Linked DNA regions of Homo sapiens. The protein of the gene in region 1 interacts with the protein of each later gene in a biochemical or structural test. Each region holds a gene or a part of one and is shown on either strand. Other genes may lie near its edges. The genes, in order: TLE3, TCF7L2 and USP47.

What was found.
Region 2: the proteins of TLE3 (region 1) and TCF7L2 form a complex in vitro, tested with the Homo sapiens proteins (one study listed by BioGRID).
Region 3: of the proteins of TLE3 (region 1) and USP47, one has a biochemical effect on the other in vitro, tested with the Homo sapiens proteins (one study listed by BioGRID).

Annotation. Positions count from the first base shown.
Region 1 is NC_000015.10:70,084,705-70,094,917, reverse strand, and holds part of TLE3 (transducin-like enhancer protein 3), read left to right. Parts: intron 1-128; exon of another isoform or gene 129-192; intron 193-341; coding exon 342-386; intron 387-10,213. UniProt on the Homo sapiens protein: Transcriptional corepressor that binds to a number of transcription factors. Inhibits the transcriptional activation mediated by CTNNB1 and TCF family members in Wnt signaling.
Region 2 is NC_000010.11:113,148,173-113,158,385, forward strand, and holds part of TCF7L2 (transcription factor 7-like 2), read left to right. Parts: intron 1-2,810; coding exon of another isoform or gene 2,811-2,825; coding exon 2,826-2,951; intron 2,952-3,552; coding exon 3,553-3,712; intron 3,713-4,160; coding exon 4,161-4,268; intron 4,269-9,848; coding exon 9,849-9,897; intron 9,898-10,213. UniProt on the Homo sapiens protein: Participates in the Wnt signaling pathway and modulates MYC expression by binding to its promoter in a sequence-specific manner. Acts as a repressor in the absence of CTNNB1, and as activator in its presence.
Region 3 is NC_000011.10:11,843,873-11,854,085, forward strand, and holds part of USP47 (ubiquitin carboxyl-terminal hydrolase 47), read left to right. Parts: intron 1-10,213. UniProt on the Homo sapiens protein: Ubiquitin-specific protease that specifically deubiquitinates monoubiquitinated DNA polymerase beta (POLB), stabilizing POLB thereby playing a role in base-excision repair (BER). Acts as a regulator of cell growth and genome integrity.

The DNA.
Region 1 (10,213 bases):
AATAACTCTCAGAGGACAAGAGGGTCCCAGTGTACACACGATTCCCTGTTGAACCTGAACCTTGTATAAACAGGATATAGGGCACATGTGGTGCTTGTGGGAGGGAAGGCCCAGCTCCCCTTACTACCACATAATATAACGTTCTGTTGAGATGAGAGGAACGCTCGCCCTTGTCAGCTCTTAAACCGCTCTGTAAGCTGGCTTTGGGGTTTGATTTAAACTTCTTTAGCAAATGTATCGTAAAAGTATGATTTGGCCAAAACCTTTCCAAGAAAAAACTGATTTTGAAAAATGACCAGATTTCTGTGTTGTCTGTTAATAGCCATTCTTTTTACTTTTAGTACTATGAGATGTCCTATGGCTTGAACATTGAAATGCACAAGCAGGTAAGTGCTTTTCTCTTTTAAAAATATATTTCATTTTTTAAAAACTTATATATGTGGACTTCTTATGTTCTCTCTTGTTTGAAAGTGAGCCTGCTTCTTCGATTCCTCCCCCTTCTCCTTGAAGAGTGAATGGATCCAGTCCTTGAAATGCAAGGTCTGAGGCTTTGCTGATTTTTTTTTAGACATGTTGAGCTTTTAGCATTTGAGCTTGTGAAATTAGTCCTGGTCTTGGATCTCGGTGGAGGATAAAGGACCAAAGGGAAAGTTGTACCTCCAGGATCTGCTTTACAAACTCCTGAAAGCCCAGAGGTGGCTGGCTGCTTTTATCTGTTTTAATGTAAAATTCTCAAGAGGAAATGCAGGAGGATTTTTTTTTTCTTTCTCCTTTTTTTTTTCTTTTTGCAGAAATGTGATGTTCTGCCTTGATAAGATTAAACTTCAAGAACCTTAAAAGCCAGGCTGAGCTGTCGAAATTTAAGGGAACGAAGCCACTAACTGCTTAAAAATATGAAGCCAGAATGAAATACAACTTCAGTGCCTTGCATTGACAAGGTGGCTTTCTCATCCCTGTCTTGATTTGAAGGCAGCCGAGTTCCCATTTTACAGAGAAGGAAGCTGAAGCTCCTGGGTGAAGTAACTTGCCCAGGGGCAGCCTAGCCAGGACTTTCGAGATGGCTGGGGGTTGAGCTCAGCTTTGAAATCCTGAAGTCAAACCAGTTTAGCTAGTGTGGTGTCGTTTGATGGATATGTAAACTACCTGGTATTGTCACTCTTCTAATAACAGTATACCTCAAACCGAGCAAATACAAACACCCTTTATCTCAGTGCATATCAGTAACTAGTCCCAGTGCTAGGCTGGGCTGTGGGAGAGGCCTGTTTGTGTATTTGTGTTCTGAGGAAAGGCTGCCTATAATTTGGCTTGGCCAACGTTTAGAGTTGACTTGGCACGTATAAATGGAGCAGGCAGGCCGGTTGTTCTTTTTAACAATTGGTGTTCATGAAATCTCAGAAGGCTGTTGACTCATTCTAGCCTTTGGTGACCGTGACTTGAATGGATTTTCTGCTCTAAATTAACAGTCGTTTACAAGGTTTCAATTTTGCTCTTTAAGGAGGCAGGACCCAGGGCAGGTGAGAAGGGCAGGTGACCCTGGAAAGTGGGCAGATTCCTACCCACTCGGGTGGCTTCCTATAGAGCCTTTGGGATCTGTAGTTTCCTTTCCCCTCCTGGAGGGAGCCCCCAGTGTTGGGTGAAGGGAAGCCAGAAAGGGGCCTGAGTTTATTGAGCAATGTGTGGGAAGCCAGCTTGTGGCTTCCTGAGGGATTAGTTAGTCCCTTAGGAAGGCACATGAAGGCTACCATGTTTTTACTTCTTGACACACAGAAATAATAGACAGGGCTTTATACGTAAAGATATTTCTCCTTGGAAAAATAGAATAGAGACAGGTTCTGCAACTGGAAGGGGCCAGGTCCCGGAAGAATGCTTGAAATGGAACTGGGGGCCCAGGTGTTTCAAGGACCTTGGGGTGTATGCAGGGTGCCACTTCCTCCCTTTGTCTGCCCTGTCTTAATTTTTTTTTTCTCAAATAGTATCTTGGGTGTGTTTAAAGAGGGTAATTGCACCCAGGTTTAAAATTTATAGCAGCAGTTATTGGAAGAGCTTGGTAATTAAGGTGTAATGTCTCGTTGCATGTTGAGGTCTGCATGGGTGGTGTTCCGCATGTCTGTGAATGAATGGTGCTTTGGCACTAAGAATCCACCTTGGCTCGCAGCAGATCTGTTCTGTGAGTCCTGGGGATGCTGTGAACGCAGGAAGAGTTAAATATCTTAACGCATTTGGTGGTGGGGTTTATATAAAGAGCAGCTGTGTACATCTGGGATTTCTGGCCATTCCCCAAACAAGGTTCTTAAGGGGAGAATGCCTGGGGTTTGGCTACGTTGTCTCATTTAATCCTCTCAGCTGCCAGTGGTGGATAGAGGCATTCTTTGCCCCCTGTTTATAGGTGAGGAAACTGAGGCTTCAGGGAGGCCAGGAGGGCAGAGCTGGGATTCAAATCCAGCCCTCTGGCTTCCCCACTGGGCACTTTACCTTGCTTGCCACTCACCTTTGCCCTCTAGCCTGAGTTCCCAGCCTGAACATGTGTGCTCTGAATGCAGTGGCTTTGCAAGCTTATGGCAGTCTCTGAGTTGGGTGAAATCACCCTGTGGCTGTGGAGGAACAAAGAGGCAAGGAGGTGAAGAAACCTGTGCCGTGAAATGCAACCCTGATCTAATGGAGCTGGCCACTCCCTAGGTTTGCAAGGGTTCTGTAGAAGAAAGCCCTGCCACTAATTGTAGTGTGGGTCTTGGGTGCATTTGGCGAATGGTGGTTAGGCCTGAGCAAACAAGTTTATCAGCTGACCTGTTTAGCGGTTGACTGGTGTTTTATCGGCACACACAATCAAGTGACTGGAGTGCTTGAATTATTCATGCAGTGTCCTGCCCTCTAGACTTGACTGTTCGTGTGATTACATCTGCCTGGAACAAACAGGCTGGATTCTTCATCTTTAAGCTGGGGTGGGGGTGGGGACTGTCTGTACTTTTATATAATAGATGATCTATAGAGCTAGCACCTTGGGAAGTGTGGCAGTCCTCAGCCTGCGCGCATACACGCACACGCACTCCACCATCACCACCACATATTTTTTTTAAAAGCTCTCCTTTGCTGGCTCTATGGGAAATGCCAATTAGCTGGGAACCTCGAGTCCTGCCAGATGGGCCCGGGTATTGACAGAGGGCAGCTGATGAGGTGCGTCCAGCCCATTTTTATTTTACTGAGAGGTTAAACTCACTGTGGCTGGCTCCTTCTCTGGCTGTTTCTCTGTCTCTCTCTTTTTCCAAGCTGTCAAAATCCCAGAGAAGTAATAAATGGTTTCTCCTCCTGCTCTTCTGCCTCCCTCCCTAATTATGGTAAAGCAAAGATTACAGAATCACAGGCCTGGCCCGGGACTTCAAGAGGTCACCCACCTCCACCAAGCCCCCTGCTTCCAGGCAGAATGTCAAGGGTGGTTCAGAGAGTCTGGGAAGGCAGTGATGACTGACCGGCTCATCACTTGCCATCTTGTTTGTGCAGAGGCTTTCCAGTGTCAGCCACAAATAACAAAGCCAGCTTAAAACCAGGGGCCCCAGAGCAATTGCCATGCATTGGATTTGAGGCACTGGCTCTCTGAGAAGCTGGGTCAGGCAGCCTTTTCACCCACTGTTGGTGAGCACTGACATTTTTGAAAGTGGACTTGAGCCATTTTGATTTTGGGGCAGTGTCGTGCCGACACAATACAGTCACCTTTTTCTGTGAACTGAACAACCTTTCCTGTAAGTTTCTCTTTGAATCTTGGAACTGGAAGAGCCCTTTGGCTTCTCATGCAAACTTTTCAAGTTACAGATGAGGAAACGGTGGCCCAGAGAAGGGAAGCTTATGTACTCAGTCATACAGTCCCACGTTAGTGGTAAAGCTGCTACTGCTGCTTCCCTTCCAACCCAGGACTCTTTTCTGTAAGACTCAAGAAATGAAGAGTGCTCCTTTTCTAGTGTATTCTGTGTCTTTAATTACTATTGCTTCTTTCTGTGTTATTATCCAAACAGGCTAAGGCTACAAAACTGGCCCCACCAAAGTCCAAAGTGCCCCATTTCGGGTTGTATAATCATATCACTGAACCCTTATTGTCCACAGTCCTGTTTTGAATTGCCAGCTATTTGCACAACTAATGATTTGATGTGTGTAATAATAATACATAATGCATAACTAGCAATCCCAGAGGAAAGATTCACAGACCGGGAAAGGTGGTATATATAACCTGTGAACTTTTTACCCTAGCCATGGGGTGCCATAAACACAGGGCTGAGGTAGGAAATGGAAAATCCCCATTTGTCACTCCCCTCCCCTCCCCGCTCTGGATCTTCTCATCTAAATGATAAGGGGCTCACCTGGAAGATCTTGAGGCACACAGAAGTTTTGTGACCACGGTGAAGGTGCAAGGTACAGGTGGCCAGAGGGAGCTACCAGGCAATGAGGTTACAAAGGACTCTGCCAAGGAGTTGAGCCTATCTTGATAGGAGAATGTGGGACCACTTGCAAAGTAGAAGGGGTCAAAGGTCCTTAGACTAGGGAAGTGCCTATTTGTGTGGCATCTGAGTTGAGCTGTGAAATTTTTTTTTTCTTTTTTGCCAGAGTGCTAGCATCCAAGAACCCTCCCACCCGGCCCCATGCCCTGGTATCTGTCTTGACTTTTCCTGCTATATTGATCTTCCCTGGAACAGACTGTAATCACGAGTCCTCTCACTGAGTGGGTGCCTGCCTCGCTCAGCTTTGGGGTCTGCTGGGCTCCAAGCTCCCTGCATGCTGTCTAGCTAGAGGGAGGTTGCCCCACCCCTCAAGACTGCCTTTGGACCCCTTTTCTCTAGTTGCCAGTGGGAGTGGTAGAGTGGGGGTTTCAGTGCTTTTGGGGTCTTTTCCTTCTTGTGCATTTGTCATTGAAATGACCCTGGGAGATGAGCAAATGGCCCCTTGTCCTTACTTTACAGATCAACGGGTGGGAACCTGGCTCCTAATTCGGGACTCATTCTCTGAACTCTCTTGGACCAGGAGCCCGTGGCAGACACGGAGTTCTTCCTTTCCTTGAACTCCTCCTTCCCACCTAGGCTGTTTGTTTCCATTTTGTTGAAGGAGTGAGTCAGTCAAGGAATAAATCTCCTTTTGCTTTCTACGTGGGAGAATGTCATTCTGTCTCATTGTTTGTACAAAATACTGGGACACCAGGGGCAAAAACGTGACAAAGACCTAAGCTTGGCAGTGTTTTCCCCTGTGATCTGGCACTCATTCCTCGTCTCATTTTTGTAGGTATGAAGGAAGCCCCTCTGCTGAGGTCTCTATAGCACTTAGTATGTAATAGGTGCTCAGTAAACATCTTGGTTTTTCTTCAAAATTTACTCAGGTTATCTGAGAGTAGAGTTCCGATTCCCTGAGCCCTGTGAGTAGGAAGTGGGGATTTTAGTTGTGGGCTGGCCGCCCGCTCTGCAGGCTTCCTCCTATGGCCCAGCATCCAGTTTCTTCATCAGTGAAATGAGGGGGTTGGATTCATTCCCAAAGCAGTTATTAGGGGACTGGGATGTGCTGGGTGTGGGCTGGGGTTGGTTACACAGCCGAATAAGACACCATTCCCTCTGCGGGGGAGTCGGATGTCTAAAGAAGTAATTGCAATGCAGTGAGGTAAGTGCTAATGTGGCCCAAGTGTCATAGGAGGAGCACCCAGCACAGAACAGCTTATTCTTCTTGGGTGAGAGCAGACTTCACTGAGGGCTTTGCTTGGCGCGAGTCTGAAAGGGAGGGTAGGGTTTATGAGGCAGAAGTCGGCAGCCGAGGCCCCTCCAGGGTGGCAACAGCTCGCGGCAAGGCAGTGAGATATGTTCTAGAAGCCACACGTCTTCGGAATGATGTGGGGCGGGGACTGCACTTGGGAAGTGAGGCGAGGTGGTGACATTTTGCAGCAGAGCGATCTCCAAGGCCCCTCTGCCCTTGCAGTCGCGGCTCCCCACCCGGTGGCTCCCTGCATCCCTGCATGGCTGGCTCTCCAGGGCTGGCCTGAGTCCATCTGCCGCGGGGTGGGGGTGGGGGCGGGGGCGGGGGCCCGCTCTGGGCCGTTTGTGGCCTGCTCTGCCTGCTTTCCTACCGTAATATGCTGCTTTGAACTTTATTCCCCAAAGTGGCATTGTCTCCTTTCTCATATTGGTAATTCTGTAATGACTGGTTATGACCCGCCCCCTCCCCCATATTTAATTCTCATCAGCCCAGCTCTCCACTTTGCTATTAATGATAGCAGCCAGCAAAATAGCTTTCAACATGCCATTGACAGTCTGGTTTAAGAGAGCACTTGAAGTAGTGCTAGACAGCTGAAAGCACCCATAATTGTGTACCAGAGTGAGAACTGCGTGCTCAAGGGCCTTGTTTTTATATGCTTAAAGGGACAATATCTTGTTTTCAACAAATGCTCTCTGAGACTCACAGCCAAGATGCTTTCTTCCTTTTTCCTTTTCCTTTCTTCTTTTGGCTTTCTCTTCTCCTTCAAAATACATATTTAAAAAAAATTCTTTATAAAATAATTGTTCCCTTCAAGTTGGGGTTAAGGAGAAACTTAAGGAAGGGGGAAACGTCCTGCCGCCATGTAAGCGGGGAATATTTGGTGGGTTTGTTGTTTTGAAGCATCGTCCTTTGCAGGCAGCAAGCTGTGGGTCAGCCTTGCCCTACTGAGGGTCCTTAGGACCTTGCGTTTCTCAAGGAGGTAATGGGAGAGTCTGAATTCGCATCAGCATTGATTTTGAATTCTTTTCTTTGCTAAGGATGTTGCACAATCAGTGGGCTGCAGAGCTGTCACTGTGAATGTTTAGGCAGAGGCCACCTTTTGGGGGAGGGCTGGAGGAGAGGGGTCACCGTGTTGGAGAGTCAGGCCATGACCGCTAAGGAATCAGATTCTAGGAGGCTGTTTGCTGCAGAGTTGATGGCCCAAGAGGCCCGTCTGGAAATCAACAGGGTGGGTGGGGCAAGGACTTGTATTCTTAAGTACAGGTTCACACCAGGCTTGGAGGGTTAACCAGGGGGCCCGGCTAGTCCACCCGGCAGATTTTATCTGAGAACAAATACTTTTCTCCCCTTCACACCAGCCGACTTCATTATTGCTTTGAAAATGCAGTCCTTTGGAAGAGGTTTCCTTTGCCTCTCTGTCACCAAAGCCTCCCATTGCCAATGTGTCCTGTGAAGGGAGAAGAGAGAAGCAACTTCCCATCTGTGGGGCCTGAGAGGCCAGGGAAACCCTGTTGGGGCCTGAAGTCTATGTTGTCCTGTTCTCTCCCAGGCTGGCTGCTCTTGGTAAAGGGTAGGAGCATGGATGGGCTTGGCTCGTGTGTCTTAGGTGGTTCCTTCCATCACCCACTGTGTGAAGGATAGGATCCAGTGTTCTGGCTGCTGCCACCACCAAATAATCCCAGGGGAAGTACTTTCCAGAGGACAAACTGTTTGAAAAATTTGATCTTCCAGATATTATAGATTATAATGCTACGGCCTCTTAGAATTTCTGTAGCACTTGATTGCAAAGCAGATTCGACATTTTCATCTTAGCAGCTAAAATAATGGGTATTTGGGTCCAGGACAGACAGACACCAGGATAAAAGCATCAGAGCATACCCTGAAAGCTTGGGGTGTGAAGATGACCTGTGTACTAGAGGGCTGTGTTCTCAAATTGGGGTTGGGGAGGTGAGGCCTGTGCTGTGACAGGACTGTGAGTTCCGTGAGGGACAGGACCATTTTGTATTTGTTTTCACTAAGGGTCCTGAACCCTGAGCAGTGCCTGGCCCATACTGGATACACAGTGTGCATTTTGTGGGGACTCAAGGAAGGAAGGTAATATTCCAGCTCAGGGTTCTCTCTGACCCTGAATAGTGTTATGGACTCTTTGGGAAGGATAGAAGCTTTCTTAGTTTTCTGACAGAGGCCTGTAGGCTGCAAACGTTGTGTTTGTAGAAAGAGTTGTAAAGGTGTCATGAGCCTTTATTTAAAAGTGTCTTTAATGTATCTTAGGCATCTTTTTCTTTTCATCTAACACTATGGACAGTTTAAGTGCAAAAGGGGAAGAAGGCAGGGTGGGGGTGCGAAGAGATAACTGGGAGGAAGAGATGACAAAGCAGAGATGCGGAAGAGACAAGTGCTGAGTGGGTGAATTGGTAAACTCGGCTTGCCATGCCTTGGCTGTTTGGGCATGGAGTTCCAAGTGTTGTGGCCTTATCTCATGAGCCTTTTAAGTTTGACTATTGTTCACAGTTCTTCTACTGCTTTTTTTGTTTGTTAATTTTGAATGAAAACTACCGCAGGCCGATAGAAGTTTCTTTTTCGTTTGCGCTGGAAGGCTGACCCTTTCCTCAAGTGGAGACCCAAATGCAGAAGAGCTCTTCCCACTAGTGTTTTAGCACTGAATACCAAATGCAATTTGGGTACAGGAGAGGGCTCTCCCTTCCTGGTCAGCCATGAAGACTTGAGGTTTAGACTCCACCACCCTGCCAGCTATATGACCAAAAGGTTGGAGGAGGCGGCCTTTCACCCACTTCCCAAATCTTTCCCTTGGGCTAGCCCTCGACAGGTCTTTGCTGAGTTTGGATCTGAAACTGATTAATTCTGATAATACTGGCAGGGGCATGCTTTGGAACCGGTGATGCTTTGTGATTTCTGCTGGGGAAAATGAGAAGAGGAAGGCAGTTCAGTGCAGACTAGTGGACAAGGGATGGGAGTCCATTCTAGCTCTCTGGTGGGGGTGAGGTACAAGAACTTCTATTAACCTTCCTGGCCTCTGTCCAGGAAGAAGTAGGACACTCAGAGGGCTCAGAAGCAGCAGGTGATGCCAGATGGTCTGGAGTGAGGGTCTAACTGGTCGGGTGGGATAGAGGAAGGAGGAGCAGGGGAGACAGAGGAAGTGAGCCTGTTGGCACTGATTGGTCAATAGGTCTTCAGCTCATCCTTAAACCCTTACCTGCTTCTTTTCCTAGAAGGAGGCCCCTTCCTCTGATCTCTCTCTCCAGTGAAGAAAGCTGAAGTCCAGTTCTTATTTTGCTTTGCCTAACAACAGAAGTCCTGGGGAAAGACAGGAAGAATTGAGATTGATGGTACAATCCCTGTCTCCCATCCCTCAATCGCTGGGTTTTCATACTTTATCCCAGAGAAATGGGGGATCTCCATGAAGCCAGACTTGAAATGGGGGAGAAGCAGCCTGGTTTAGAGCTCGAAAGACATGCCCCTCTCCTGCAGGGTCCTGCTGCTGTTGGCCTGGTGTCGGTCTCCATGTCACCCAGTCCTTGTGTGTGGCAGGCACCCACAGGCCTGGTCTGCAGGAACTTGAGAAGTGTCTAGATACCCCTTTCTCTTAGCCTTTTGGGTTTTCTCACTATTCTTTTACCTGGTTTTTTACCTTACTTCTCAAGAGACCCCTACCCAGCTCTTCCTCACTATCCATTTGCCCAGGGATATTGGGCAAACTCCCTTTTTAAACTCCCAGGATGTTGAATGCCCATTGGGCCTACTGGATGATGGATGGGGTGGGTTCCCAGCAAGCCAGTTTTTCTTGGCCAGTGGATTCCCTTTCTCCCTCAGAAGATCACAAGTTCTTGCCGGGTGATCCTGGAGAGTTAGGTATAGAGCACCAGAAGCTGGGAGATTTGTCTTCATGGCTAAGAGGTTGGCTTTGGAGTCAGACAAATGTGGGTTTGAGTCCCAGATCAGTTCATGTTGGTGTGTGACTTTGAGCAGACTGTTTGACCTCTGTGATCTTCAGTTTGCAGTGGAGATAATAATAACACCTGCCTGTTGCGGCAGTGCTGTCCAGTAGAACTTTCTTCAGTGATGGAAATGCTGTATGTCTGCACTCTTCAGTAAGGCAGCCACCAGCCACGTGTGGCTCTTAAGCACTTGAAATATGGCTACTGCGACTGAGGAACTGAGTTTGAAATTTAATTTTAATTAAATTTAGCTAGCCACGGGTGGCTGGTGGCTTCATAAATTGTACAGTTACAGTTATAGGGAGTGCCATGAAGGATGCATATAGCCTGCTTAGCACAAAACCTTGCACATGGAAAGGCCGAAGCAAGGTATTCTCACAAGGGGACAGAGTCCCCAAATTGTCAAGGCCTCAGACATAGAGGACAAGATCCTTGGTGTTGCATATGTTGTAAGATTTCTCAGAGCCCTTTCCCATATGTGACTTGTTGGCTCTACGGTCCTGCAGTGTAGGCACCGTGGGCGCCACGCATCAGATAGC
Region 2 (10,213 bases), on another chromosome or scaffold:
AGATTGGCAATTAAACAGCTCTTGCTGACACTCACTTGTGCCACCCTGTGACCCCCTTTAGATTGAGATGTTGGAGCTCCGGGCCCTCAGCCTGCTAAATTGGTGCAAGGCTCTTCTCCTGACGAGAGCCGGCTCTGAAATCTGCCGGCTTCAAAGGGAGCGAGATCATGTATAAACCATAATGTGGGTGCACCGTGGCTCACAAAAAATAAGGCAGGAAGAGATGAAATGTTACAAGTGCAAGGGGGAAAATGAGAGAATAATGACAAACCTAATGCAACTCAAAGCAGGATTGTTGCACAGGAAAATGCATCCTACTGCTTGTGCATAAAATCAAGGCCGGCAGATGACATCCGGTTAACAGAAACGTGTCAACAGTGAAGTAAAGTGAGAGTGAGTAAGAGAGAAGCCCCTGAGACAGCCAGAAACAAAAATTAGTTGTTCTTAACAAGTTAAGGTTCATCATTATATTCTGGCTTGGAGCCATGAAAGCAGACGGGGGTATATAATGAGCTGCTTAGAATTTTTAGGGTGTTTATTGCATTTCATGAAATAGTAGTCTGCAGAAAGGAATTTCTTAAGCGAAGGTATGTGTATACAGCCCACATCCATGTTCACACATGGTCTCTTTCTTTGCTGAACATTTTTCAGATATGGGAATATACGCGTAGGTATGGGAACTTAGAAATGTGCCTTCTTCATGGCTGCATTAGAAGTTTGTCTGCACCCCAAAATGTACTCAGATTGTGGTGCCTTCCCGTGGTATTTGGTGTATGTACACACACGTACACACACACACTCACACATGCAGTGTTTTTCTCTCTCCCCCTCCCTCTCCCTCTCACGTCTGTACACATATTCTCATTCTGCAGGAAGGGAACATATGTATTTGAGGAATGTCAGGCCTTCAAAATTCACAGTAAAAGCTGCCACCCACCACTTCACCCAAGGGCTTCCAAGAACACATGTTCTTAACTTCTGTTTCCTCTGAGGCCTTCGAGCAGTGGGAAGGAACAGGGTGTCACTTGGAGCCCAAGTGTCTCCCAAGGGGTTTTGCTTTTTTTGTTTTTCACATTATTTTGAGAGGAAGGGGATGAAGATGAAGGTTGTTAGCATGTTTGTTTCCTTACATTTTCCTTCTCTCTCTCTTTTTTTGATACATTCGAAGGACTTGTATTGTTGTTATTTTTAAAATCATGTCATGCAGTCTTCACTACTGGCTTAAATTTGTAAAGGCAGTGGCAGGAAAGGCCACGTCAGCGTGGGATTTTTGAGTGAAATGTCTACTGTGGCTTGGGCCTTCTTCAAGAATCAGCATTAACTTTCCTTCCTCTGTTGATCTGTGTAGATTCAGTTAGTACTTTAATCATTTTATTATTTTTCAAATTAATGTTTGTTACCTTATTTTGGCTGAATGGAAACTATCTCTAGCCCGCTTCTGGAAAAAACTTTGTAAATACATACAGAATCATTTTGGAAGAATTGTCGTGATCGATCCTCATTAGGCCCTCTAGTTCCCACCAGAATTGGCTTTGTAAAGAGCAGATTGTTATTCCTTGGATGGTACATTGGACTGCTTTGGTTTGGACTTATTAAGAAAGCAACAGTTGCCATGATCTTCATCTGAACAGCTTCCCATCTGCTCACTTGAATCACCTTGCCAGGTTGGAGCAGGAGGCTGCCATATTGTTTACTTTTGGGATTCTGCCCTTTCTGTCCCTCACTATTTTTTCTATAGTAGGATATGTTGCTTGAAGAGGGGTGAGTCTTCCAACCCAGTACAAATCATGGTGACACCACGCAAAATTGAAAATGAGAAAGGTGTTTGATCCAGTTGTCAGTCTGCAGATGGGCCAAGAGTAGGTTGAGATTAGCTCTTTCTGTCCTGGCTAATGTACTTGGTTGGGAAATGCCAATTCAGGTCCTAAAATGTGCCTTAGAGAACTGTCCAAAAAATGAGCAGCATGAGAGGAGAAAACACAAACTGTATCTTTCATTTATAATTTTGATAATCATTTAGAAGACTTCTTAATGATGCCTAGACAACATATGAAGTAAAAGTGATATAGGAATCCTAAATTTTAGAGGAGAAAGGGCATACAAATCAGAATCAAAGGTTTATTGTGTGTGTGTGCACCTTTCCTTTCCTTTTTTTTTTTGCATCTTTCCATAAAGGGATAGAAACTTATTTAAAATGTCCATGACTTATGATATGAACCAAATAGGAACTATTTGAATTTTCCCTGTCTTCCTGCCTCACTCTCTCCCATTCCTGTCAAATGATGGGACACAGCACAAAAGAAAAATAAAAATTGTATTGCACTTCATCAACAGGATGAGGCCTAATGAGGCTTGCACAGCATTGTCAAAAATGTATGTATATTTCAACCACGTTAATATTTTATTTAGCTGTCAATATACAACAAAAGATTTCACCTTTCATTTTAGAGCTGATTAGGACTTAGGAAATTGTCTTCTTAGATGCCACTAATAATGCCTCAAAAAACAAGTGGACGTGCGATTTCTGGCAGGTAGTCCAAGCCCACTTTTCCGCCCAAGTACGTCAGTTGAATTTGTCTTTTGCTAAAGATGTTAAAAATCATAATGTCTTATGTCAGTAGCAATAATGAATTGGCTTTAATGACATTATGAGAATCATTATGTTTAATTTATCGCTAATTAATGCTGACAGGTTTCATATGCCTTGGGTTGCTTTCATGTGAGTGTTACGTGCTGTTTTTTTTTTTCTTTTTAATTGTGTGTACACATCCCTCCTCATTCATTCATTTTGATTCTGACGATTTACACAGCTTTCTGTCTTCTAGGTTCCCTCCCCATATGGTCCCACCACATCATACGCTACACACGACGGGCATTCCGCATCCGGCCATAGTCACACCAACAGTCAAACAGGAATCGTCCCAGAGTGATGTCGGCTCACTCCATAGTTCGTAAGTGTTGCTGTTTTTCTCACCTTCTTCGTAGCCGCAGTGTTCTGCAAGCCTGTTGCAGCTGCTGGGTGGTGGCTTTCTGCCTAAGGTTGGCCTCGTTTGGTTTGACTGCAGCCAATACCCAGCCTGTGTGGGCTCTTCACTCCCTTACAAAGAGAGAGAGAGTGCACAGTGGCAGAATCTCACTGTACCACCGTGGGTTAGAACAGAACTGTTTTTTGTGTGTGTACTTGGATACACTGGGATTTGCAACCACTTCCCTGCCCCCTAACCGCATCATTGAACATTTAGAGCTTTGTTCTGCAAGCAGGAGAAAACCCTGCCGAGGTGAAGACAGCAACCATGTGCTTTCCCCTCTGGCTTGGGAAAATTGTATATTTGTGAAACTTGAGGAAGTGATTGCAAAATCCCTCTCTTCCCCCAACCCCTCCCCAAGCTATTTTTGTTCCATTTTCCGGGGTGCAGAAGAACTAAAAGCATGCTTTTTAATCCAAAACTGCTAGGCTTGGGGGTTATGAGACAAGGAGATACGTTCCCTGCCATGGAGGAAGTTGGACCACGACCTTGTTTATTGGGTTGCGTCTGTTTTGTCTATCTCCAGAAAGCATCAGGACTCCAAAAAGGAAGAAGAAAAGAAGAAGCCCCACATAAAGAAACCTCTTAATGCATTCATGTTGTATATGAAGGAAATGAGAGCAAAGGTCGTAGCTGAGTGCACGTTGAAAGAAAGCGCGGCCATCAACCAGATCCTTGGGCGGAGGGTAGGTGACGCCCTTCTCAGGGAGAAGCGGGGGGCGGGTGGTGAGGGACCAGAGTGCAGCAGGTCAGGTGGCAGAATGTCTCTGTCCCCATTTCTTTGGAGAATTCTTGCCCTTCAGCCACATTCTGAATCCTTGAATGGCCTTCACTGAGTCAGGACTAGTTATTCTGCACTCAGCGTTCAGAACAGCCACAGCCATGCTCTTCCCCTACCCGAGCGAGTGAGCAAATGACAGAATGACATAGATAACAAATCAAGTTTTGTCTAAACATTCCTGTTAGTGCCAGGACCCAGCCGACGGTCAGTATGTACAGATTATACCATTTCTGGACGGACTCACCCAAAAAGGCAGCATTATTTATCCCCTGACCTTGGCGTAATGTGTGATGTTCTTTCATGCTTTTCTCTTTGTTCATGTCTTTCTCATCTGTACCCCACGTCCCCTCCAGTGGCATGCACTGTCCAGAGAAGAGCAAGCGAAATACTACGAGCTGGCCCGGAAGGAGCGACAGCTTCATATGCAACTGTACCCCGGCTGGTCCGCGCGGGATAACTATGTAGGTGGATCATTTTCGTTAGGATTGGAGTCTGTAGAGCTGTGTTGTGCGTCTATACGGACAAAGAGAACAGGACCTGCCACTTGACTAGGGTGGGCCTCAGGACCATCCAATCTGCCCGCTTTGGGGACTGGTAGCATCTTCCTGGATCGCTAAACTGCAGGGAGGGGCTTCCCGTGTGGATGGTTGGATCAGCTCACAGTCATTCTTCAGGGTGGAGAGAGGAGGCTGCAGTCCCAGTGTTCCAGCTCAGGACCAATGAGGTTGATTTGGTGCTTGTCTCCTTTCTAGAGGAGGCAAGGCTCTTAGGATACACCCAAAGGACCTTATGTTCCGGATTAGGTTCCGCAGGCTCCTCAGCAGTGATCAGTGGTGTGGCCTTCTAGGGAAGACCAGTGGGTAGGTGTGGAGGAACAGAATTTAATTCCTCCCAGGCCTTTCAGCAGGCCCTTTACCGTTAAGAAGGAAAAACAAAACTATTCCTTTGTGCCATGGTGCAGTAGAAGTTAGAAGCCTATTTCATCCTGAGAGGAGCATGATGGGAATATCCCTGAAAGCAGCCAGAGGAAGTCAGCCTTTGGCAGGATGCATGAACCGACTCTGGCCCCAGCAAGGGCAGGGAAAGTGTGCTATGCGGTGTGTGTGTTCCTGGGCTCTGTGTTGGCTACAGGATCTGCCTAGTCCTCTCTTGGGTTGTAGGAAACACCATGGGATGATTGTTTTTACTAATTGCAGTGGTTGTGACCCCACGATTCCTCTCCTCCCATGAGCACGCTGTCTTCCGGAGACTTCTGTCACTTCTCACCATTGCTGGTTATCCTCCATTTTGCCCAGTAACTCCGCTTTCCTCTCTCGAGGGATGAAATGCCTCTTGTTTTGCCTGATACTTTATTTCATGACATTTGGTTCCGTGAAGGGATTTCACCATCCACTCTTAGGGGAACACCAAAACTTGTCTTAAGGCCGGCACAGGCCTCTCATCCCCTTCCTGTCGATGTCTTGGAGCCATGGATGGTTACTTTTCCAGTTACTTTTGACTCTCCCACTGGCATCATCCGCGGTGAAGCAGCTTGACGTATAGGGGTCGAGGTCGTTAAATTATTACTGAATTGAGTGAAACATATCATGGCCTTTGAGGCTTCTGTGGCAGGGGCTGGGGACACACAGCTCTTAACTGCCTTGGCCTGGAAGTGTCATGGGTCACTTACTCCCATCACCCATTGGCCAGAGCTAGTCATGTGACCCAACCTAACTGCAGGAGATGCTGGGAAATGTGCAGTTACTGTGCACAAGTTATTACAGGGATTCAGAGTTAAGTCGGATATCTTTACTCCCTCAGAACTTAGCATCCGCCAGGAAATCGCAAACATCTGCCGGCCTATGTGATCCTGAGGAAGAGCTGCTTCTGCCTGCTCTGATGAGTAATTTCAGGCCTCCTTCCTCTTTCTTCTCATACTTTTAAACCCGTGCTTGCCATGTAGATGAGGGAACAGGGAGGTGCCCCTGGCCATCTTTCTCGAGGCCCTGCCCCCTTAGCTGGCAGCGCTAGACTGTGCTCCTCCTGGGAGTTGAATCAGGAAGGAGTGCTGGCACCTCTGGGATGGCGCGTGTGCTCTGCTGAGAGCCCTTGTCGCCGACAGATGGGCTTGCACGGGGTCTCCACTGCTTGGGACCTTTCTGTTTGTCCCCAGCATGTGTGCAGTGGGGAGGCCTTTCTTCTGGAGCTGAAAGGAAGAGGATGAGAAAGTGAATGCTCTCCCACAGGCTTGCTGTTCACCCCCACCTGACCCTGAGGTGGAGATTTCCAGTAGCAGGCAGGCTCCATAGCCTCCACGTACACAACCATATCATTTCAGGACAGCTGCTCTCCTGGTTTCGGGTCAGAAGTTCTTAGAGTTCATCTTGAGCTTCTACCTGCTACAGACCCAATTCTTTGAGTAATCTAGAATGATACCACAGAGCGGAATTCAGCTTCTCTATAGAGATCATATCCCCAATAGACATTTTGGGTCATAGTAGGGCCTTCATGTACAGCTGTGCAGGGCGTGCACTGCACAACTCTAGAGTATGTCATTTACACTGGGGTCTATGTGAATGGTGCCCCCTGGAGTTGTGCAGGGTGAAATCTCTACAAAGGTACAAGGCAGACTGTGATAGCTTCAAAAGAATACCGTGTTTGACTTGCCTGGGAGTCGTTTAGAGAAAGTATTGCTCGAGGCTTTTTGTGACATACTTTCTCGGTTTCAGAAGGGCTGTTAGGCACTCGAAATGACTTTAGCTCAGTTTTAAATTTGGAAGATGGTTTGGTATAATAAGGGAACTCCTGAGACGATTTGAGGTTTAGAGATCTGGATTTAGGGCTCTAGGAACTTTATCTCTTGTAAGAGGTACTTAGATTCCTATTACAATGGCTCATTACACATGGGTGTGAACACACACACTCACACTCACGCCTTCCTTTTATGCGCTAGGGAACACTGGGACTAAGAACCGCAGCACTGAAGCTTTTATGGATTTGAATGTGGTAGCAACTTAACTAGTATTTTTTTTTTTTTTTTTTAACTAACTTGACGTGGGAGTTTCCATATATTACTTTGGTCATTGTAAACTCCAAAAGCTTCTTCTGGAAAATATTTCCTGAGATCTTCTCATGGCTCTTTCACATTCCTGCTTTTCCAGCCAACTGGTAACGGAAGCCTTTATATCTTTACCTTAGGACAACAGAATTGAGTGAAACAGTCACGTTTGGATTGTCAGACTTGGTACCTTCTTTAGAGCCCAAGAGAAAACATCTTGAGTCCCATAGTAATATGTAACCCCTGGGATTATATTTGACATTATTTCCTTTTTAACCCTCTACACTGGGTAAAGGATAGAGGTCCCATGCCATTTGCTCACCTGAGTTTCTTTTCTTCTACCCATATCGTAGGCCCTTTCTTTCTTCTGTTACATTTAAAGGGGTAGTAGCGTGGCCACTTCCCTGGAGATGCATCTTCCTCTTCACTAAGTGTAGGGTTTATCCACTTTCTCATGTCTTCTTTTTATTAAAACACAATCCCTGTCCTCCAGAAGTCTCTAGTCTAAATGACAACTTCTTCAGTAGTCAACATCTCCGTGCTATATCCTAAAGGCACAGCTTCTTTGTGTGTAGAGGAATTTTCAGATGCCTTCACAGTATATTGCAAGGAATTGGAAACGGGGATGCTTTTTCACACATGGCTGAGAAGCCCTTGGGTATGTGGATGCTGATACTCCTTGAAGTTAAAACATTTCTGTGCCCAGTTTTTATGAATACTTCAGGCTCCTAAATGAACCGAAACTAGGCCCGCCTGCCTGTTCCAGGATAGCCAGGTGGCACTTTGCCCCTCACGTGGGAGAGGCGCGGGCATGGAGATGGTCCATTGCAGGCCCATGAGATGCCAGCTTCATGATAAAGCACATGAGGTCCTTTTAAAAGAAATTGTACATGAAGGAACATAGCGCGTTTCAACAAGATCCCCGAACAGAAGGCCAAAACAAAGCTCCCAAGTTGCACAGGCCCCTTCCCCTCACAGAAAAGATAGGCCATTTCTACAACAGATGGCCCTCAGCCCTGGGTGGAGCCTAAGCTTGGTGGCATCACCACCTTGAGGTTTTCCTGACAGAACCTAACGTGTTCTCGAGTTTCTTTCTTTCTTTTTTTTTTTTTTTTTTGAGACTGAGTCTTGTTCTGTCACCAGGGTGGAGTGCAGTAGCACGATCTCAGCTCACTGCAACCTCTGCCTCCCAGGTTCAAGTGATCCTCCTGTCTCAGCCTCCCCAGTAGCTGGGACTACAGATATGTGCCACCACGCCCAGCTAATTTTTTGTATTTTTAGTAGAGATGGGGTTTCACCATGTTGGCCAGGATGGTCTCGATCTCTTGACCTTGTGATCTGCCCGCCTTGGCCTCCCAAAGTGCTGGGATTACAGGCGTGAGCCACCGCACCTGGACCTCAAGTTTCTTTCTGCCTATCATTGTCTTTTTCTCTTCCGAGTTGACATCAACATACTGTGAGAAGCTTTAGGCAAAGGCAACTTTTAGCTGTTCTGAAACATATAGCAGTGTAAGACCATTTCATTTCAATGTATGCCAGGCAGCTACTTCATCTGGTAGGGCTATGAGGGGAGGGAGAACTAGTCCAATCCGGAATGAGGCAGTCGCCTCTCCTGAATTCCCCCCAGTCCCATTCCACATTTGCAACCTCGAGCAGATGGATCAGGTTGGAGAATATGAAAGACTCCATGCAGTTCATCCCCTAAAGCCCTCACTAAAAGAGCTTCCTTGGAGGGCTGGGCATTAAACTTGTAGGCAGCAGAGCCTTGTGGTTGAGGGCTTTGGAGCCAAGACCACCTGAGTTCTCTCCTGGCCCCACCACTTGCTAGATGTGTGACCCTGGCAAAGTTACCTAACTCGTCAGTTTTCTCCTCTGTGAAACTGGAATGGTGGTAATACCTGTTGAAGAGGATTGTTGTGATGATTAAAATGAGTCCATCTGCGTAGCACACCTAGAATCATGCCTGGCACCTGGCATATGCTCAACACATGTGACCCATTCATGGGAGGAGTGGTATCATCCTCATTATGTCAGCTAGAAGAGAATTGAGGGAACATCTTCTTTCTTACAGATGTCCACTCAGCAGGTTTTTTTTGTTTGTTTTTTGTTTTTTTGTTTTTAAACAGAGTTTTGCTCTTGTTGCCCAGGCTGGCATGCAGTAGCATGATCTCGGCTCACTGCAACCTCCGCCTTCTGGGTTCAGGCGATTCTCCTGCCTCGGCCTCCCGAGTAGCTGGGGCTACAGGCATGCACCACCATGCCCGGCTAATTTTGCATTTTTAGTAGAGACGGGGTTTCGCCACGTTGGCCAGGCTGGTCTTGAACTCCTGACTTCAGGTGATCCTCCCACCTCCGCCCCTCAGAGTGCCAGGATTATAGGCGTCAGCCACTGCTCCCAGCCCACTCAGCAGTTGTGAAAGGAGCCCAGATGATTCCTCGTTCTATTTCACCCTTTTCCCCTGCATCTTTAACAGCAAACTCTAAGAGAAGCCTCTGCTAAAGCTTTCATTCTCTTGATTCAGAGTGGGACCCTTTGGCCTTCATAAGTAAGAACTGTGAGCAGGTCAGGCAGGGCAGCCCTTGAAGCTGGTGCGGCCATGACCACCTTCATGTGCTCCTCAAAGATGGGCTCTCAGACTGCTTGCAACGCCATCATCCCACTCCTCTCTGAATCTTCCTCGTGCCGTCCCCCATTCCCTTTTATGGATCAAATGCTGTGGGTCAGGTTTGACAATGGACATAGGTACATGAGAAATGAGAGCTTCCCTTCACCACCCGCCAATCCCTTCTCTGCTCCCAAGAAGCGTGTGTCCCTCCAGCTGGGGTACAATGCAAGGGCATTTGGCTTGAAGCGGGGTTGGAGGTTGGACAAATACCGGGGGTTTGTGTGGATGGAGATGGCAGTATGGTCACTTCCTCCTGCCTTCTCCTTCCAGGTGCGCCCAGACACTCTTCTCACATCTGTTTCTTGCAGTAATTCCCTGTGTTTCATCTCTTCATCTAGGGAAAGAAGAAGAAGAGGAAAAGGGACAAGCAGCCGGGAGAGACCAATGGTAAGTGACAATCATCAGGTTAGAGGAAGGAGCTGTAGCCTGAGGACCACCCTTTTATGTTAGGTTTCCATCTGGGGGAGGCAGGAGAAATTCAAGGCCAGGACATTGTGGGGGAACCCTTCTTAGCTAGCCTTTTTGTTTATGCATTTTAATTAATTGCTTCATGACTGCCCTTTTAAAGCTAGTAACATCCATTGTTGCATGAAAAGCACATTGTAATTCTAGTGGAATGTGTTTTAAAATAACTGCAGAGCCTATAACTGGAGAGCAAGCGGTAGGCATGCCTATGCCGGGATTTATACAGTCTGCTTATTTT
Region 3 (10,213 bases), on another chromosome or scaffold:
TTAAATTCATCACAACTTATGTTTTTTCCCTTTCTTCTTTTTATGGACCATATGCCTTTATTGTCTATTCCTTAGTCTCATCTTCAGTCTTCTTTTTCCCTGGTTCCTTTCATGATTCCTGGAAGCATGATCTGTGGTTCTTACCTTTTATAGCTAGCCAACTAGCTTTTTCTTCTTTGATGGCCACACTCATTCTTTATTAAAGTGATTGCCTCCAGTTCCATATTTGCTTCTGGATTACTGGAAACTTTTTCTGAAAATCACCAGTTATCTCTTAAATGACCAAATTCTTTGACTTTTTTTTTCTTGCCTCTTCTGCTGTTCGAATTCTCTGCAGGATCTGATAGTTTTTTTAAAAAAACAATTTCTTGATTTTAGTGATACTCCACTTTTCTGGTCATTTTCCCACCTGTTTGTCCTATCTGCCCACTCATTTAGTCAAGGCCTTTCTCTTCTTTTTTGTATTCTTAATTGGCACTTTTGTGTGATCCTTGAAGCTCCGGGACAGGTCCTTTTAAACAGTAGTAGAATCATACAGTGCTAGAGCTAAGAGAAAGCATAATCATCATCTAAGTTACCCCTCCACTTTACAGTTAAGGGAGTTAGGCCCAGAAGATTGAAAGTGACTTGTTCAGGGTCAAATAATGAGTAAATGGCAGACCTAGTGCTAGAACTCACTTCCTTTGCTACTATTCCCTTGATTATACCCTATTTTACAGAGCCCTACATGTAATTTAGAGGCTCTGTAAGAATAGTTTGTAACTCTCTAAGTACATATATATGTGAAAATAAATGGCAAATTAAAAAATTTCATGCATTTATTTTAATGGCTTATTATCAATAATCTAAAGATTTTTTTTTTTTGAGGGCCTTTGTATAGGGAACCTCTGACCCCTGCTAGATTTAGATCTTGGTTAGATGTGGGCATGTGTGCGTGCGTGTGTTGGAGTGTATAGTTGTTCAGTGAATAATATATTTTGGTCCCTGAAACTCAAGGACAAATGTACCTTTAGAGGACTCTTGAAGAAGACAGCTTAGTGTAGTACAGGCATTGGCAAACCACGGCCTGTGGTCCAGATCAGTTCACAGCCTGGTTTTGTATGGCCTGTGAGTTAAGAATGAGTTTTACATTTTCGAATTGTTGAAGAAAAAAAGTCAAAAGAATTATAATAGTCTGTGACACATGAAAATAATGTGTAATTCAAATTTTAGTCTTGAAACAGCTATGCCATTTATTTAGTATTTTGTATGGCTACAACAGCAGAGATGAGTAGTTGCTACAGAGACTCTATGCAGGATAAATTTGAAATTACTTAGCTTGGTATTCAAGGCCCAGTACCATTGATTCTGGCCACAACCTGTCCTTCCAGCTTATCTCTTCTCCCATGAAACAGGTTTTTAATGTAGTCAAACAGGTTTCTCTCTAACTTGCATTTCACTTCTGTTTGTGCTGCCCCCTCCTTCCTGTTCAAAACCTTCATACACATTTTTCCATAAGTACCTCATATCTCATTTATGCTAAATAGCCTTTTCTGACCATTTTAACCTTAGAGATTTCTCCCTCTTAGAAGACCTTTATATAGGAATAGAATTCATTTGGCAATTACTAGATGGTGCTTGGCGACATCTATTATGATCTGAAACTGTAATCTACATTTTATATATTATTTGTTGTGAATTCCTTGACAGCAAAGACTTGGTATGTTTCTCTGTCTTTGCTTTTTGTTTTTGTAGGTTTTGTACTATAGGTTTAAGACAGTGTCTTTCCTGGAGCAGATATTCAGTAAATATTCGTTGATGTGGTGACAGAGTTGTAAGTAAATTTAGCATTCTAACCAATTATCCTGTCCTTGGAGGTTTTCCACAGCATCATTGGCAAGCTATTTGCCAACTTTTGCTTTAATACATACTTCTATGACTAATCTTTGATAAAATCTTTGTCTTAGAAGAGATCTGTTATTTTTAAGTTTTTGAGTTGAGAGAAGTCTAGATCTCTATAGCTGCCATCTTTTGATAGTTGCCTTACAGAAATGTTAAAGCATTTCCCATAGGATAGTTTTTCTCATCATTGAAGATGGGAGAGGGTAGCCTGAGAACTGACCTTTTCTGTTCTGAGTCTGAGCTTCCTCAGTTCTTTAACTGTTTCTTAGTTCCTCTCTTTTGGACATAATCTGGGGTTTTTAGTATTCCTCCTAAATTGTTGTACCCAGAAAGAGCAAAGAGAGTGGTATCTCTTCATTGTGGTGAAGAACAGAGCTTTTCACCCGTTTCATTCTGCCGTATGTCTTTGAATTGTAGTATATTGATTTCTGCTTTGAGGTCTCTTTTAATAGCATCCCAATTTTAATTATTGTTTGGTTGCTATTTTGTTATTCTGTTTTCTTATAAGGATGTGTGTCATTAATATTCATTGAGTACTCACTGTGCATATTACTGTATTCTGCCAAATAGGAAAAACTTAGAATAGAAAAATTTGTTCTTCTCTCAAGTGTCTTATAGAATGATCAAGGATAAGGTGCATATTTACTGATGCTTTAAAAATAATACTTAAACTGCAGTACTTAAAGTAGTGCTCATGGACTCTAAATCCAGAGAAAATGGAAAAAATGAAGGAAAAAGAGTAGAAATGTAAATTCTTTATCTCTGGGTTTTTTTCTCCTGTCTTTCATGCAATCACTACTTCTGTCTGGAACTGGTTTTGGCATCTAATGATGATGATGATAGTAATAACCAGTATTTATTGAGCATTTATTTATATACCAGATACTGTTGGTTGTGCTTTGTATTAACTCATTTGAGCTTCACAGCAACCTCAGAGTACATAAGACACATTGATAGCAAAAACAACTTATTTTTATTTCTATTGTCTGACTTCTTATAAAATCCATTCATCAGTATCTATTATGGAACATGTCAAATGCATATTCTTTTAATTTTATTTCTCCTAATTAAATTACCTGAGGAAATGTGCTGCAATTGTCATTCTTGATTTTAGTGATTCTTTTAAAATGAGGCTTTTTCTTAAATTTCAGATGTTGACTCTCTCTTACCAGTAAGAGACAAGTTTGTCAAGTTATACCCGCCAGCGTTTTAAACAAATTGGAGTGTTTAATAAAAGTCAGTATTTTAGATATCATTGGAAATGCTCATTTAATGAATGAAAGCAAAAGCTGAATGCAGAATTGTATATGATTCTAATTTTGTCCAGGAAAAAATGAACAATTTAGGGTTAAATGCGTTGAAAGATTAGAAGGAATACACTAAAATATTAAGAGTTGCTATTTCTGAATTTCTGGATTATTGGGATATATATTTAGACTTTCATATTTAAAAATGAGCATGTACATTATTTTCAAAAACAGAAATTGAGATGATCTGATTGTAGTTTTGGGGGTATTTACATAGTGTTTTTTTTTTTTGTGCTCACAGTTTTCCTATTTCCCCTCTCCTCTTACTCTGTATATTTGTCTTGAGTAATCGGATCCACTTGTATAGCTTCAACCTTTGATTGTGATTTACACATTTATATCTCCAGCCCTGACCCCTTCTAGATTCAGATTTCCACTGTTCTGGATATCTGTACTTGGTTGTACTCTAGGACCCACAAATTAAATATAGGTAATATCGAACTTATTTCTCCTTCCCTTCTCACAACCCAATTCTTGGTGTTCTCCTGTTTCAGTTAGTGTTATCGCCATCTATTTATATGCTTAAGTTAGAACAGTTTTTGACTCCTCTCTTTTCCTTTTTCTCACATATAGTTCACCACTTAGAAAATGTCTCTGTATCCTTATCTTTCTCTCCATGGCTCTGCCTTTGTCTAATTATTGTTATTTTCTCCAATGTGTAGCCTTTCTAATTGGTCAGTCTGCTTCCAAGGCCTTTCCTTTCTTAACCATCCTCCCCACAACTGCCAGGGTTACTTTCTAAAACAGATGAGATTAAGATTTACCTGTTTTAAAGTTTATAATTATTACCCTCTGATTGCAATTTGAATGATAGGTACTATTTGTAAACAGTATGTGCTAGACACTATGCTAACCAGTTCACTTACATTATCTCATTTGACAGTATGACAGTATTAGCTATTATTCTTCATTATCCATTTTACACATGAAGAAACTAGGCTTAAAGATGCTAAGTAACTTGCTCAAAGTTACATAGCTATTTGATTCTAAATCAAGGTAGCTTTAACCAGTAGGAAAGTCCTTGATAATATGGATTCAGTTGATTTTTTAAATTTAATTTTTATCAAAGTTATGTTTAATACATGCATATATTTATAAGAGTTAAATAGCTCTGCAGAACTATAGTCACTTGTCACTTAATGATGAGGACCTATTCTGAGAAATGTATCATTAGACATCATTTGAACATGATACAGTGTGCTTGCACAAACCTAGATGGTTTAGCCTGCTACACACCTAGGCTATATGGCATTGCCTGTTGCTCCTAGGCTACAGCATGTTACTGTACTGAATACTGTAGGCAGTTGTAATACATCATAAGTCTTTGTGTGTTCAAACATACAGAAGGTACAGTAAAAATATGGTATTTGTAATCTTATGGGACCACTGTCATCTTTGTGATTGTTGACCAAAATGTCTTTATATGGCACATGACTATATTTACAAAAACAGTAGGTCTCTGCAAATTTCCCCTCATTTCAGGCTGCCTAGGGGCAACTGCTTTCAACTCATTCTTTTGATACTTACTTCCATATTTGAAACTGGCATTTTTTTTTTTTTTTTTTTTGAGACGGAGTCTCACTCTGTCACCCAGGCTGGAGTGCAGTGGTGCGATATCACCTCATTGCAACCTCTGCCTCCCGGGTTCAAGCGATTCTCCTGCCTCAGCCTCCTGAGTAGCTGAGACTACAGACGCGCGCCACCACACCTGGCTAATTTTTTGTATTTTTAGTAGAGATGGGGTTTCACAGTGTTAGCCAGGATGGTCTTGATCTCTTGACCTCGTGATACGCCTGCCTCGGCCTCCCAAAGTGCTGGGATTACAGGCGTGAGCCACCATGCCCAGCCGAAACTAGCGTTTTTATAGTGTTACTTCTTGATTTTTCAGTTTAAGATATTTTTCAGTTTAAGTAAAAATGAGGGTTTACCACTATCCCCAACCACACACAAGCACACATTTTAACCCTGCCCAGTACTCCCAATATTGTCATACTGCAAGTCGTTTGGATACATCCGCATTTCATAGAGATGGAGTTTCACTATTATTGCACAAGCTGGTCTTGAACTCCTGGGCTTAAGCAATCCTCCTGCCTCAGCCTCCCAAAGTACTAGGGCTATAGGCGTGAGCCACCATGCCCAGCCTGTATACATCAGTATTTCAGTTTATAATGACTCCATTTTCACCATGTTAGCTAGGCCAGAGTTAGTAATTTTTAACAATTTTGCTTTGCTTAGTTTTCTGTATACTTATTAAATTAGCCAAGTGGTTATCAATTGGGGCCCATTTTCTCTCCAGAGGACATTTGGCAATGTTGGGGGAGGGGAGGAGAGTGCGGGTGTGTGCTACTGACATCTAGTGGGTAGAAGCCAGGTATGCTGCCAAATATTCTTCTGCACTGCACAAGACAGCCTCCTGTAACAAAGAATTAGAAGGCCCACAATGTCAGTAGAGCTGTTGTTGAGAAACCCTGATTTAGCCCAAACTATCTCTCAAGTGTATAAATGGCTTATCTTCAAACCTACCAATTTTGACTTCGTGAGAAGCTCTTTCCCAGGGCCTTCTGACCTACTCCAGTTTGAACTTGTTAAAGCTAGAACTTTTGTGCAGCTGTTGTCTTGGACTTGCTTTACTGTCATCTTTATGATTCTCTCAGTTCTGTCTTGTTTTGGAGCCCCTGTTTCTGTATCTGGTATCTTTGGCTGTCTTTGTTTACTTTCTCATTTTGAAGGGCCACTTTCAATAGTTCTCTGGATGGGATAGAATTTTTTCAAGACTATACATGTCTGTAAATGTTTTTTCTCCCCTCTTGTTTTATGGATAGTTTGGCTGGGCAGAGAACTCTGAGTCAGAAATAATTTTTTCTCAGAATTTTGAAGGCATTGCTCTACTGTCTTCTATTTTTCTGTGTCGATGTTGAGATCAGATGCTTAGAACATCCTTTTCAACTATTTTGAAACTTTCTTTTTTTCTCTTTGCGAGCTAGAGAGAGAATCTTTGTCCCCAGAGTTCTGAAATTCTTGTATTATGTAGTTATATGTCTGTTTTTTTAATTCATTCTGCTAATCCTGTTCAATCTGGAATTTATCTCATAAATTCTGCAAATTTTCCTTAAATAATTTCTTTGATTTCCTCTCCTTCATTTTATCTCTCCTCTCTCTTTTGAATTCCTGTTGTTAGATGTTGGGCCTACTGATGGGTTTCTCTAATTTTCTTGTCTATTTTCATCTATTTTCCATTTCTTTACATTTTTTTTCTTTGCTTTCTGGGAGATTTTTCTCAACTTTGTCTTCCAGTTTTTCTACTAAGTTCTTATTTCTGCTATAATATGTATAGTTTCCATTCCTTTTTTTGAAAAAAAAATCCTATATTTGTTTTATGGATGCAGTGTCTTATCTCTCTTAGGAAATATTGGTAGTTTTTTTTTTTTTTGTCTGCATATTCTTTTTCTTCCAAATTTCCTTTTTCTGTTTGTTTGCTTTGGTCTTTATCTTTCATATTTGTTGCTTTCCTTAGATGTCTCATGATCCTTGGCAGTCTGTGCTTATTTAAGAGAGAGGCCCTAAGCTGAATGGAAGCTCTGCTTTTGTGTGATTATGGTTTTTTGTGTAGGATGGTAAATCTGGATGATTTCCTTGCAGACTCCCAGTCTTAGTCCATTTGGGCTGCAAAAACAAAATACCATAAACTGGGTGGCTTATAATCCACAGAAATTTATTTTTCACAGTTCCTGTGAGTGAGGCTGGGAAGTCCAAGATAAAGGTGCCGGCAGATTTGGTGTCTGGTAAAAGCCTGCTTTCTGGTTCACAGAGCAGCACCGTCTCGCTGTGTCCTCACATGGTGGAAGGAGACAAGGCAGCTCTCTGGGGCCTCTTTTACAAGGGCACTAATCTCATTTATGAGGGCCCTGCCTTCTTGATCCAGTCACCATCCAAAGATCCCACTTCCTAATATCATCATATTGGCAAGTAGGGTTCAACATGTGAATTTTGGGGTAAGGAGACATAGGCATTTAGACCAGGGCACCCAGTGACACATCTTTTCTTTTGTGCTGGATTGTTTTCCCAGACAAAATTTCTCATCTTTTGCCAGGAGAGAACAAGCTTGAGAGCTGAGTAGGAAAAGGGGATATGGGTCTCATCTTTAAGCATGCAGATTAACCTAATTCCCCAGTTTTCATTATGGCACCCTTCAAATTCAATTGAGCATGTTGTCCTCTAGTCTAGATATATCCTGTTATATGCTCTCTAGAGATTGTTTAGTCTTTTATCAGAAAGGGTTGAAGAGTAGAAGAGGAGGTCTGGGGATTTTCACTACTTCTTAGATTTTGGTCAGTTCTAGTTTGGACTCCACTCTCGTTCCCAAAGTGTCTGAAACTTCCAGTTCCTGAGCCCCTTAGTTTATTTTTTTGTTTGTTTGCTTTAATGTATTTACACAAGAATTGCGGAAAGAGTACAAAGTTTCCGTATACCCTTCATCCAGCTTCTTTTTATCTTAACATCTTATATAACCATAGAACGATGATCAGAAGAAATTAACCTTAGTATAATATTATTAACTACACTACAGAATTTATTCAGATTTTACCAGTTTTCCCTCTTATAGTTTTTGTTTGTTTCAAGATCCAAATTTAGGATACCACATTGCATTTGGTTATCATATCTCCTAGTTTCCTTTTATCTGTGATAATTTTTCAGTCTTCATTTTCAAGATCTTGACACTTTTGAAGAGTACTGGTCAGTTATTTCATGGAATGGCTCTCAATTTGGGTTTGTGGATGCTCTCTCATGAATAGATTGAGGTTATGAATAAAAAGAAGGATTATCACAGATGGGATGTGTTCTTCTTAGTGCATTATGTTGGTAGGGGGGCATGATGCTGATACGTACTACTGGTGATGTTAACCTTGATCACTTGGGTAAGAGGGTGTCTGCTAGGTTTCTCCACTGTGAAGTTACTATTTTTCCCTTTAATAATTATTAAGTACTTTGATTTAAAGTTACTCAGCCAGGCAGGTCAAACTTTAAAAATAAAATAGCTTTTAAAAATCAAATTCTTTGAGACCATGCAGATAACCTATTTCCCCCTAAATTTCTGCCCACTAATTTTATCATCTATCTGTGATCTTGCCTGCAGCAATTATTACTGTGGCTTAATAATAGTGATTTTCTATTTCTCTCATTATTTCTACATTTATTAATTTAAATTCTTCTGTGAGGAGAATTTGTCCTTCCCCCCACCCCCATTTATTTACTTATTTATTTGTATCAGTATGGACTTATGGATATTTATTCTTTGGATTATAATCCAATTCTATATCATTTATTTTGTTGATCAAGCTGTTCCAATTTTTGCCAGGGGGTGCTTTTTCTGGTGGGCTTCTGTGCTCATCCTTGCTTTTTGAGCACTCACTTCCTTACTTTCCAACACCACATAATGCTTCAGCCCATCTTATGTTTTCCTTGCCCCAACCCTGGAATCAACCAGTTCTCCAAGGAGTTTAGAGGTCTTTTGGTGTACTAAATGTCAGTGTGATATAAACTAGGTGTCTTTGCTTTCTTCTAGGCTAACATGGAATTCAGCCTTCCTAGTTGTAATTGTCATTGCCACTTATTCTGTTTTCTAGCTTTTAAAATTGTGTTTCTGTTTGTTTGGGGTTAATAGTCTTTCAAAAATTTCTTAACTGGGAGGCATCAGAGCTAAATCCTTATATTCAGTCTATCCTCTTTAACCAGAGATTCTTAATGTTTTTGTCTCATGCCCCAAGCCAGTTTTGTACAAACCACATTCCACTACATTAGTTGCTGTTCCTCAGATGTGCTGTTATATGTTCATGTGTCACTTCTGTGCCCTTGCCCTGACTGAATACTATGAAGTATTTCTTTTTGTCCTGCAGTTTTTAAGGAGTTTTAAATGGGTGGACTTTTATTTTACATGAAAATGACTATTTGAATAATTAGGATTCTTGCCTATCTTCTATTTTCTCTTTTTTGGATTAGTCATATAGATTTTTTGTCTTTTAGTGCCCAGATACTGTAATTTTTTTTTTGCCAAATGGAAAGGAGGAGTTCCTGCATCTCCAGAATAGTAGGGTATGGTGATAGCCCAAGTTAGAAAGAAAAGATTGTATCAAAAACAGGGGTTGTAAAAAACAGAGCATTAAATATATATATTTAAATACCTATTGTAAATTAAAGTTCCAAAAGACATCTACTTTTAGAACAAATTCCTTGGTATTAAGGACCTTCTTCAGTTCAGGCAGCATGTGTAGGTGGCATGATATGCAGAGGCATATTCTGTTATGAGGTTTATGACACAGATTTTCAAATCTAACATACAGACATTCTCCATTGTGGAAAAGTATTTGGCAAAATGATTGTGCTTGGCAGTGATGGCAGATGACTGACAAAAAATGATGTGATCTTTCACATCGACGTTCTTAAAGAATATGTGTTTTCCTGAGCCTGGTTTTTACTGGTATAGTGTAAGAAGGGATGGATGTAGATGTAGTGTGAGTAAATAGATGCGTCCTCTCTACCTTACTGCATACTTCCATTTCCTTTGTCCTTAGGTGTGGAAGTAATAATTGCCCTCTTCTTTCATTTAATGAAACTAAACTGAAACATGCATACATAAAGTATCCATGTATATGAATGTTTTAATTTATGCAAAACTGTTATTGATATAACCTGCTGTTGAGAGATTACAGTTTTTACAAAAATTACTGAGATATATGTCTCAAGTTTTGATGTTCTTTAAAACATGCTCTTAAAATCCTATCCAACCGGCTGGGCCTGGTGGCTCACACCTGTAATCCCAGCACTTTGGGAGGCCGAGATGGGTGGATCACGAGGTCAGGAGATTGAGACCATCCTGGCTAACACAGTGAAACCCCGTCTCTACTAAAATAAAATAAAATAAAAAAAATTAGCCGGGTGTGGTGGTGGGCGCCTGTAGTCCCAGCTACTCAGGAGGCTGAGGCAGGAGAATGGCGTGAACCCAGAAGGTGGAGCTTGCAGTGAACCGA